Regions from separate parts of the Homo sapiens genome. Here region 1 is linked to region 2. The links come from fine-mapping of genetic effects on gene expression. A gene starts in region 2. The other region holds a variant in brackets. All regions are shown on one strand. Distances are between the middles of the regions. Region 1 overlaps PRRC1 (proline rich coiled-coil 1). Region 2 holds the start of PRRC1 (proline rich coiled-coil 1).

What was found. PIP is the estimated chance that this variant, and not a neighbour inherited with it, causes the effect.
Region 1: its variant is the best candidate, but not a certain one, in a credible set for the expression of PRRC1 in breast (GTEx, PIP 0.79).

What each region holds. Positions count from the first base shown.
Region 1 is chr5:127,546,432-127,551,798 of GRCh38, forward strand. It overlaps PRRC1 (proline rich coiled-coil 1), which reads left to right. Exons shown (of 9, transcript NM_130809.5): 8 at 1,388-1,490; 9 at 5,276-5,367. Among named protein-coding and RNA genes, the nearest start is that of PRRC1, 31 kb to the left of the region's middle. The variant GAAC/G (reference allele first, on the strand shown) is at 3,031.
Region 2 is chr5:127,514,486-127,519,871 of GRCh38, forward strand. It overlaps PRRC1 (proline rich coiled-coil 1), which reads left to right and starts at 3,155. Exons shown (of 9, transcript NM_130809.5): 1 at 3,155-3,291. RefSeq lists a silencer at 3,023-3,092 and an enhancer at 3,153-3,332.

The sequences.
Region 1 (5,367 bases), 32 kb after region 2:
GGTGCTGTCTCTCTGAATGCATAGTAATCTTTGAAAACCATTGTTTAGAAAACAAAACTCTAGAGTCTTTAAGTGATCTTGAGAAGGTTCATCCTTTCCTCTATAATAATATACACAATTGTAGGGGTGTGAGGAAGGGGAGGGTAATGTAGTGTACTTCAGTCACAGTCTGAGCTGAGTCAAGTCTAGGTCGGTGTTCTAAGGTATATTCACTGGCATCATAGAAAAAACTTTCCTCATACCTTCAGTAACACTTTTTAGGATGTCCACACCTGAAAGCTTGGTTAGTATGTTATTCACCATAGAGATTATTGTCTGCAAATTATGCAAAATAAGGCAAAATAAAATTTAGCTAAGCTCGACTTTATGGAGGCTTCACAAATACATTATCTTGATTGAGAAAGTTGTAGTAAAATACAAAATATCTATTAGTCTACCAAATAAAATAAATGTCATTATTTAATGTTTTTAATTTTAAAGTTTTAGGATATGAACACTATAGACATTATAAAGTGCCATTTTAGTATTCAGCAAAGTTATTTATGTTACTGTATATTTTACTTTGTTGTTTTTTTGAATGTGTAAATAAAAGTCTCCTAATCCATTTTATATTTCATTGCATTTTATTAGATTTACATTAAAAAATAGGCATTAAACATTTTCCTGCTTCATATCCTTTTATTGTTTAAATTCATTTTTGAGGGTATCTGGCTGTTTCATGATTTGGGTTAGCTAAAATTTGGGTGGTACTACAGTTGTTTTCAATAAAGTCATTTTTAAAATTTATCATTTTGTATGATATATAAGTCTCTTTAAATGAAGAGAAGTTTCCTGGATTTCATGAGGCTGTTTTCAAAGACTGACTCATTGTGAATAATTCAGAAATTGTGATTAGAAGGATTTATTATTAATGAAGAGAGTATTTGTTATTATTTCCTCTGAGCTTATTTTTTAATTTGTTAGTAACTTAGTTGAGTACATATTCATGATAGAGTTTGTATTATAAAATTTCCCATATTTTAGCAAGTGACAATTGAAAAATATTACTCATAAGCTGTTTGCATATTCAATGTATGTAAATTTACCTGTTGCATATTTGAGTACCCTTACTTTGATTATTCTCCCTTCCCATGGAGAGGAAGCTTTCCATGATAAGTATTTTTAAATTTTTTTTCTTTGTGGTTATTGTCTTTTTTCCTCTTAGAATTAATACAGAGTAATTTTATCTGTTGTTTTTATGAATTGTCCTTTTGCAAGTTGGTAAGAAAAAGATTTCCTTTTTGAAATCTGTTCTATCTGAATAATAGTACTTGTTTTTTCTTTTTGTCTATTCATGATAAGTTTTATTTGGCATATAAACCATTTGAAACTCGTAATTCTGTTGCAGATGGTTTGACATTGGTTGTTTGGTGGTTGAAGATCCTGTCCATGGCATTCATCTAGAAACATTTACACAAGCCACACCAGTGCCTTTGGAATTTGTACAGCAGGTTGGTTTTCTCCTTTGCTTTTTCATTATGCTCCAGAGAAACTTACACTATTGTTTTCAGAATAAAAATTTGTTCGGTTTTTTTGTTAGAAATATGTTCTTGATTTTGTTTCAGTCATTTTTCTTTTAGTATTTTTCTTTGCTTTTTAATTTCCTGATCCTTCCATGTTGTTTTAGTACCTTCCTCCTTTTGTTTTCCAGGTGTCTTTGAAAGGTAATACATTACATGGTTAATCATTATTTCTCTCATTTTTTTCTTTGTTTTTACTCTGAGTTCTGGAAAAGATTTACCTTTTCTAGTTGTTTTATGTCCGCCTTTCGTTTGCTTTCCCTTTTATCTCACATTTCATTTCCACTGTTATCTCCATTTCCCTTTTCCTTGATTGATTGTCCTCCTGTTCATCTTTAGTGAAATCAACATTAGAAACCTTATAGGCACGTGTCTTTAGGTTTTTGGCTGAAAAATGGACCTAATAGTGTACCTATCCACACAGTTTCCAGGAGAATGTAAGTATAAATGATAATCCTTATTCCTCTTTTTTTTTTTTTTTGGTGTGTTTTCTCTAATCCTTTCATGAACAAAATGGAATATAAATATATACTTGCATTGGAATCTCTGTGCTCTTAAGTGGTATTCTATTGACTTTTTTCTGTCAATTTCATAAAATTTTTGTTACAGTTGTAGTTTGTACATTGTTAAATATCATTTCAAAACTGCCTTTCAAACTTATTTGGGACATGAAGACATTTGAGAATCTAAGAAAACTATTGGGCTGTCTCCCAAGAAAAATGCGTGTATGTGTACTTTCATAGAACTTTGGCATATGTGTTCACATAATCCCTAAAAGTAACCTCTGGCCTACTTATTACAGTTTAGAAAGGGGGCTAAGAATTGATGCTTGGAATTTGAAATTTTACTGAAACTTTTATTTATACCGTAATTTCTTTTCATAAGTTCAAGAAAACCTTTTTATAGATATTAACATTACACTCATTTCAATATGAAGGTGATTAAAAGACTGTAAGTGAATACTATGCATACTGTTATGCCAATAAATTAGAAAAATTAGGTGAAAGAGTGGATTTTCTAGGAAAATAGAAGTTTTGCCATAGTTAAGAGTATTAGGTTGAACCAAATGACGTTGTTGCCTTTGATGGTCAGAAATAGTTATATATTGTCAGTTTCATATGATTCAGCTTAATTGAAGCATTAAAATGGAAGAACTTTATGTAACTAAAAAAAAAAAAATCACTGAGTACCAATGGTGTTACAAGTGAGTTCTACAAAATGTTCAGAGATGATTTGCTGTATGAGGTATCAAAAATAGAGGTAGAGAGTTTTCCAGTTCATTCTGTGAGACTAGCCTCTTTTAACTTTAAATGAAATTATAGTCCAAAGAACTAAATGTCAAAACCATTGGTAAAATTAATAAATAAAATTCAGAAATGTATTAGATGAACATTGTATCCTGACCATGAAAAATTTGTCCCAAGAACAGCAGAATGGTTCAACAATAGTAAATTTATGTAATTCAGTACAT[GAAC/G]ATCTGCATTGAAAGGAGAAAAAAGATTTTGATAAGAGTTGAAGGTATTTGCTAGAAATAATCATACTAATAGCTCTTAGTATTAGACGGGTATGTGTGTACTACAAAATCAAAGCAAACTTCAGATCTAATAAATAAAACACTGAAAACGTTATAATTATGAGGATGCTCCTGTCACTGCCACTGTTAACATTGCTGTAGATCTGGGGTCAGCAAACAGTGGCTCACAGCCAAATCTGGCCTGTCATCTTTTTGTAATTAAGTTTATTGGAACACACCCATGCCAGTTTGCTTACTTATTGTTTATAGCTGCTTTTGTACTATAGCAGCAGAAATGAATAGTTGCAACAGAGAATGTCTGGCCCACAAAGCCTAAAATATTTACCATCTGGCTCTTTTCAGAAAAAGTTTGCTGACCCCTGTGTTAGATATCTGACCATTGCAAAGGACAATTTTTATGTTGTTTTTAGGAATATATACTGGAAAGAAGTAGACATGAAAGAATGAAGTGGACTCGTGTGTACCAGTACCAAAAGATAGCTATTACATATTGCTGAGTAAAAGTCAAAAACAGCACATCTAGTATGATCCCATTTACTAGCAGGCGTGTGTATGTGTGTGCTTTAAAATTTTAATAAGAATAGGGAAAAAGGCCTGGAAAGATAACACAGCAAACTGTTAATAGTGGTTAATTCTGAATAATGGTATTTAAAGGGTGTTATTTGCTTTTTACTTTGCTTTTTATTCTGTTTGTTTTATTTTGTGTCATTTGGTTTTAAAATTTAGAAGATACAAAACTGTGTGCATTGAAATGTCTTCTTTTTATCCTCAGCTATTCAGCTCTCCTCCCTGTTTCTTTTTATTCATTCTAAAATGTTTTATGCTTTTTTATTGTTGGAATTTTTTAATTTAAGGTAATGGAAATCAGCCCTTCAGGTAATTAGAATTATCAGTATATATTAGTAAAAATCTGGAAATAAATTTCATACAATTTGTACTTGTTAAACTTAAATATAAATGATTCCTCACCCCCATAAAAAACCCCAGCTGTTCTGGATTTTTGCCAATAATATAGAATACCTTGTTTCTAAAAAGTGTGGTCCTTGGCTTAACATCATAAGCAGCACCTAGAAATTTGTTAAAATGCAGATTCTCGGGTCCTAACACAGGACTAGTGAATCAGGAGCTGCATTTTAACAAGATATTCAGGGGATTCATAGGCATGCCATAATTTGAGAAGCACAGTGTTACTGGTGTCTCTGAGGACGTTAGTAGTATATCTGCTGTTTCTCTTTGAAATATAGTGAAATACTGATACTGTAGTATACACATTGGAAGAGAGTACTTAGAGCAGGGGTTCCCAAGTGCTGGACTGTTTGCATCAGATTGACTTGGAAGCTATTTTACGTACGTAATACTGTACTGTTTCTCTTGGAACCAGCTGTAGAGTTTCCAATTCAGTTATCTTGGTGTCTCAGTTATCTTAGTGGGATGTGAGAAACTGGATATCGTTAAAAAAGAAAAAAGAAACAAGAGCTCCTCAGGTGATTGTAATACATGGCACATTTGGTAGTCATGTATAACTGTATAGATCCGTTCTAGATGTGGCTATACTTCTCTGGACTATACCTAACACCCTAAAACAGAAAAACCACATCAGTCTTGGATATCAAGCAATGAGTTTATTCTTCTGTCATTCCTTTGTAGATGAATAAATGATTTGAATAGGAGCAAATATGAGTTGGGTCAATTAGGAATGTTGCATCAGTGGTTGATGTTGTCCAGGACTGGATATTACTTGATACATATTAACATGTGAATCACATTTCCAGAGAGAATTTCCATAATTGAGCAATTCTTTTCTGAATGGATTTAAGCCTTAATTTTCAGTTTTCCTCTTTCTGGTTGAAATTTTACTACTATAAAAGATAACTTTAGCACTGATTTTAGTACCAATCTTATTATTAACCTGAAGTGACACTTAATTTAGAACTAGAACTCAAACCTTCCGACTGTTAGCCTCGTTAATGGGGATATTTTTTAAAAAATAGATGTGTGTAATGTTACATTGATTGTGTTCTAGCCTTGTAAGTTGATATAGTTGGCAGCCTAGCTGTATTTCTCAGAGTTTGTCATAATCTATATTTAAAATAACATGAAACACTTTGAAATGTCACTTATAGCTAGTTCCAATGATATTTTTAAATGTATTATAAGTAATATCAATTTCATCTTTCCACAGGCTCAAAGTCTAACTCCCCAGGACTATAATCTGAGGTGGTCAGGCCTTTTGGTGACAGTGGGTGAAGTCCTGGAAAAGAGTTTACTGAATGT
Region 2 (5,386 bases):
ATTCTATCATGTTAGAGAATTCCTATAAGGAAGAATTTGATGAGTTGTTAGCAATGACTGAAAAAATAACAAACCAAGCAGCTCTTCGTTCTCCCATAATTTTCCATTGACTCCCTTCATTGTCTGCCATCTAAGAAGAAATCTTCTCACCTTACCACCCACAAAGCAGGCAAGCAGTTGAGGTACAGCCTAAGGATTCTAGGTTCCATCTCCAGCTCTATGCACCATTTTCATAGCCTTAGTTTCCACGTTTCTAATACTGGAATAATAATACCTGCCACACATAGTTCTTTTGAAGTTCAAATGAAAAGTGGTAAGTAAAACATAAAATATAGTAAATGTAAATCAAGGTTAACTTCAAAGCTCATCTTACCTCATTGTCCATGTAGTGGGTTGAATAGTGCCCACCCCCCAAAAAAGATATGCCCACCTGGAACTTGTTACTGTGAACTTATTTGGAAACAGGATCTTCATAAGACCTACAAATATATTGAGATGATATCATTCTGGATTTAGGGTGGGGCCTTAGCGGAATGAGTATGCACTTATAAGGAAGTATGCTTATAAGAGAAAGGCAGAAGGAGATTTGAGACACAGAGACATGGGGGGGAAGGCCATGTGGAGACAGAGGCAGAGATTGGAGGTGTGCTGGCACAGAGGCAGAGATTGGAGGTATGCTGGCACAGGCCAAAGAACACCTGGAGCCACCAGAAGCTAGAAGGGGCAAGGAAGGATTCTCCACTCGAGCCTTTGGAGAGGCCCTGCTGACACCTTGATTTTGGACATCTAGCCCCCAGAACTGTGAAGGAATCAATTTCTGTTGTTTTTAGCCAACGAAAACATTAGTTGCAGTAATTTGTTATGATAATCTTAGGAAACTAATGCAGCTTACTCCCAACCCATCAGTAAATCATGACAGCTCCATCTTCAAAATACATCCAGACCGTGTGCCACCTCCACCTCCATTAGGGACACTAAGCCATCATCATCTCATTACTGGTCATCCTGCACTCATCCTCACATGGACTGCAGTCACACAGCAATCAGAGTGTGATCAGAAATTGATATCAAATATTGTCAGTTCTCTGCTCAAAACCCTCCACGTGCTTCTCATTTCTCTCAGAGTGTAATCAAAGGCTTTCCCATGACCTACAAGGCTAGACACGATCTGGCCCCACTCCCTGTCCTGTCTTCTTTACCATTCTCACAGTCCTGCTTCCCTGTTGTCTGCGCACATGCCGAGCACACTCCATCCTTAAGTCTTTGCATGCCCTTCTTTCTGTCCGGATAAGCACAGGCCTGCTGCATTACACGTCTCTGCTCACATCTCACCTATTCAGAGAAGCCTTGCCCATTCATCCTATCTGAAGTGGTCTACTCCAATTACTGTCAATATTACATCACTCTTTGTTGACTCCTCAAACTGCACATCACAAACAGTACTTACTTTATTTTCCTGTTCCTACCCTCTCTCCTATTATAAAGAACGCTCCCTAGGTATCAAGACCTTGTCTGTCTTGTTCGTTACTGCATTTCCAGTACCAATGCTCAGCACATTGCAGCCACTAATAAATATTTGCTGAAAGGATGGAGAAACCAACATACCTTATAGCTATTAAGGGTGTTGATCAGAGAGGATGAAGATGGTTATCTGTCTTTAGCACCACCCCAAACAGCACGATCCGGACAGTAACCTGGATCTCCACCTACACACATTCTTAGAGGATAGGAGCCACCGCCAAAGAAAACCGCCCATGGTAGTTGCACAGTGAGATCTGAAGTCAGAGTATTGCTACATAGTATTAACTTTTCAGTGAGGTATTTTGGAATGCTTACAACTGTGAAGCTCAAGAGATAGATTAATGTGAAATCTCTAAGTGAGTTCCTGAAAAAAAATTGAGAACAACAAAAACAATTTTTTATATATTTAATGCTAAGCAATTTAAAAAATGTTTTCGGACAGGTGCGGTGGCTCACGCCTGTAATCCCAGCACTTTAGGAGGCCGAGGCGGGCCGAGGTCAGGAGTTCGAGACCAGCCTGGCCAAAATGGTGAAACCCTGTCTCTACTAAAAGTACAAAAATTAGCTGGGTGTGGTGGCCTGTGCCTGTAATCCCAGCTACTCGGGAGGCTGAGGCAGGAGAATCGTTTGAACCCGGGAGGCAGAGGTTGCAGTGAGCCGAGATGGCGCCATTGCACTCCAGCCTGGGCAACAGGGCAAGACACCATCTCAAAAAGACAAAAAGTTTAAAAAATTTTCATATGCTCTATTTTATTTGAGTCTGTCACCTGCCTGATTTAGGGATGGTGGATAGTATTATTCTCAGTTTGCAGGTAGAAATATGAAGACTTATGGAGACTAAGTGACCTGTACAAGGGCAGGCAACTGTACAACTGGCATTAGAGTAGTCTCAGACTCAAATCAAGACTTCTGATTTGAAGTTCCTTATTTTCCTCTATCGCACTCCATTAATTTATTTAATGTACATTATTGAACACCAACTATTTCAGGTACTGTGTTAGGTGCAGCATATAATAAGAAAGTTGATAATCTGTCTATTTTACAATTAAAAAAAGAATGTGCAATACATGCACTTGGGGAAAAATTCAGTACAGTAACTGCTACTCTTCTCCCCTCTCCCTCTTCTCCTAATCCCTCTCTCCTGATATAATCACTGTTATCTGGAAATCTTTGACTATACAGGCTAAGTCCCCTGTATCTGCCGCGAGGTCCTTCCTGGAGGTGCTGACTGGACTAGCTGATGTTGGCTAGATGACCGCCAACCAGATGACCTTGGCTAACTGATCTTATCCCTTGGGCCGCTGTGGCACAGGATGAGTGAGCTACGCCTGGTAACAAGAGTGCCACTCTCGTGTAAGGGGGCTGCGAAGTAGAAAGGAGGCCAGCCCTTTGGAAGATGTTTCTAGAGGGTGTGGGCAGAACCAAGTCTCGGTAGTTAGGAAGATCTTGGCTCCAAAGTTTAACTTGCAGCGTCCCGGCCGGGTTCACAGCGCATGGGACAGGGGGGGCGGGGCGATGCGGAGGCGGAGCGGGGCGATGCGATGCGGGGCGGAGCGGGGCGGGGCGGCGACGCGCGGCGCGGTGCGGCGCGCGGCCGACGTGGCAGCCGCAGGAGCATGCGCCGCCCGTGGCCATCTTGTAGGCGGGGACACGCCGAGGTAACTTCCAGGGTGCGCCTTCGTTGTCTTCTCCAAGCTGTAGTTCTACGTCCCGACCTCCCTATCATACCACACTCTTCAGCGACCACGCAGGCACTTTCCCGGTCCCCAGGTGAGCGCCAGGTGGCTCCGAGGGGCGTGTATGAGGGGGGTGGCATGGCATGGCATGGCTTGCAGGCGCCAGAGCCAGACCCCGAGGGACGGTGTCCCTGGAAGGTGGGCGGGCCGGCCGGCGCCACTGGACGCCGATGTCGTTTGCGAGCCCCCTAGTCCCGTGGTCCAGGCTCAGCTGTGGCGGCGTGCGGGGTGCAGCAGGCAGGAGTGCACATCGCAAGGTGAGCAGTTTCCGCTGGGGATGGCACGGTGGGCGCGGTTCGAGGGTCTCGCCCCGCGACACTTTGCTCCTGTCCAAGGACCAAGGCAGGAGCGCTCTGGCCCCACCTTCCAGGGCGCTGACTTTAGGGGAGACTGGCGGGAGCGCCGGCGGACCTTAGCCCGGCCCTGTCTGGCCTGGAGACGTGGCAGAGCCTGAGGGGAAGCCGCTGTCTCCTGAAACAGGATTTCGGCCGCTCTGGCCCTGGAGAGGCCCAGGAGGCTCGAGAGTCATCACACCAGGACCTGCAATGAAAGGAAGCTTATTTTCCCTGAGGTTACCCCATCGGTGCTTAGCGCCGCTTGGGAGAGTTTTTGCATTCTCTCGTTTCTTTGTTTGGTCTTGGGACCTGCTTCAGGCAAATTTGCAGATAGCACGTTTCCTAGATTGACAGAATTTATAGCCAATAGTGTTTTTGTCATTCGAAGTAGTTATTTTGAGAGACAACATGTGCATTTCTGCGATCGTGACACATCTTGGCATTCAGTCTTTCTCCTGTGCAGCCAGTGTTTAATTCAGTGAAAATTTATAAAATTTTATTTCGGGGTCAGATTAGGCTCTAACTAGCGCTCACTGTTTGGTAGTAGAGACAATCTTGTGGCACGAGTAGGTCAGCAATAATTGCTCTTAATGCTTTAAAGTTTATCAGAGCTTCACTCTTCCATTTCTTGTAAACTTGTAAATAGACATCCACTTTTTTTTTTTTTTTTTAACAGAAAAACCAAGGCACAAGCAAATTGGAACAACAGGGTCTAGCCGGACTGAGAACTCAGTTTTCCAAACCATTTTCTTCACTTTTTCTTTAGTGTTGATATATGAATAGTACTTTTCGTGACAAGACTTGAGCCCTAAAACAGTTACCAACTCTGACACTTCAGTATTGTTTTATCATAATAGGTTTTTTTAGTAGAAGGCACTATGTTTATGCATGTAAAATTTACCTCAGTATTGCCATTACGGCAGTTTTCATATAAAAAGCCATTAAAGACAAAGAAATTGATTATTTATTCCACTTAATGACTTTGTATTCATTGTACAGTTTCTTTTGCAGACACATTTGTTAATGTTAGGGATTCTCTTACAATAGGACTTCTACTAGTCATTGTAAGGATTGGGGAGCATCTGTAGTAGAGGGTGAATGACCAATAAAAAATTAAATGAAGAAAAGAGGGAGCTTTGGTTGAGGAGTGGTAAAATCTCCAAAGGGGCATTTCTATCTCAGGTTATTTACCTTCGATGTATAGGTACTGAATGAAAGGATTCAGCCTCCCCGGATCCCTGTTCTCTGCTTAGTGCCATAGATCTTTCCTACGTTCACAGCCAAACTTTTTGAAAGTGTCATGCGTGTTAGTCTCACCTGCCACTGCTCGATTCAGTTTACACTGGAATCTTTCTCCACTCTTTATATGAAAACCGTTCTCCCTAAATTCATCTCCAGTTTGGCAGATCCATTGAACTTCTCAGATAGTATCCTATTTGGCTTCTCTGCAGCATTAATACTGTTGCCCATTCATACTGCGAAACTCTGGCTTTTGGACACCACAGTCTCCTGGTTTTCTTCCTTTCTTTTAGCTCATCTCTTATTCTCTGCAAACTTGTCTTCCATCTTACTAAACCAATAATTGGTTTAACATCATATTCTCTTTTCTCTTGGTATTCTCTTACGTAATCTCATCTCAAAACATGACGTTAGACTATCAGTACACTGATGACACCCACATTTATGTGGTTGCTAAGCTCCAGACCAAGTCAGTGTCTCTACTTAGATGTTTGTTTCAAGGAACTTAAACAGCATGTCAAAGACTAAACATTTTATGATTTCCCCCATCCGACT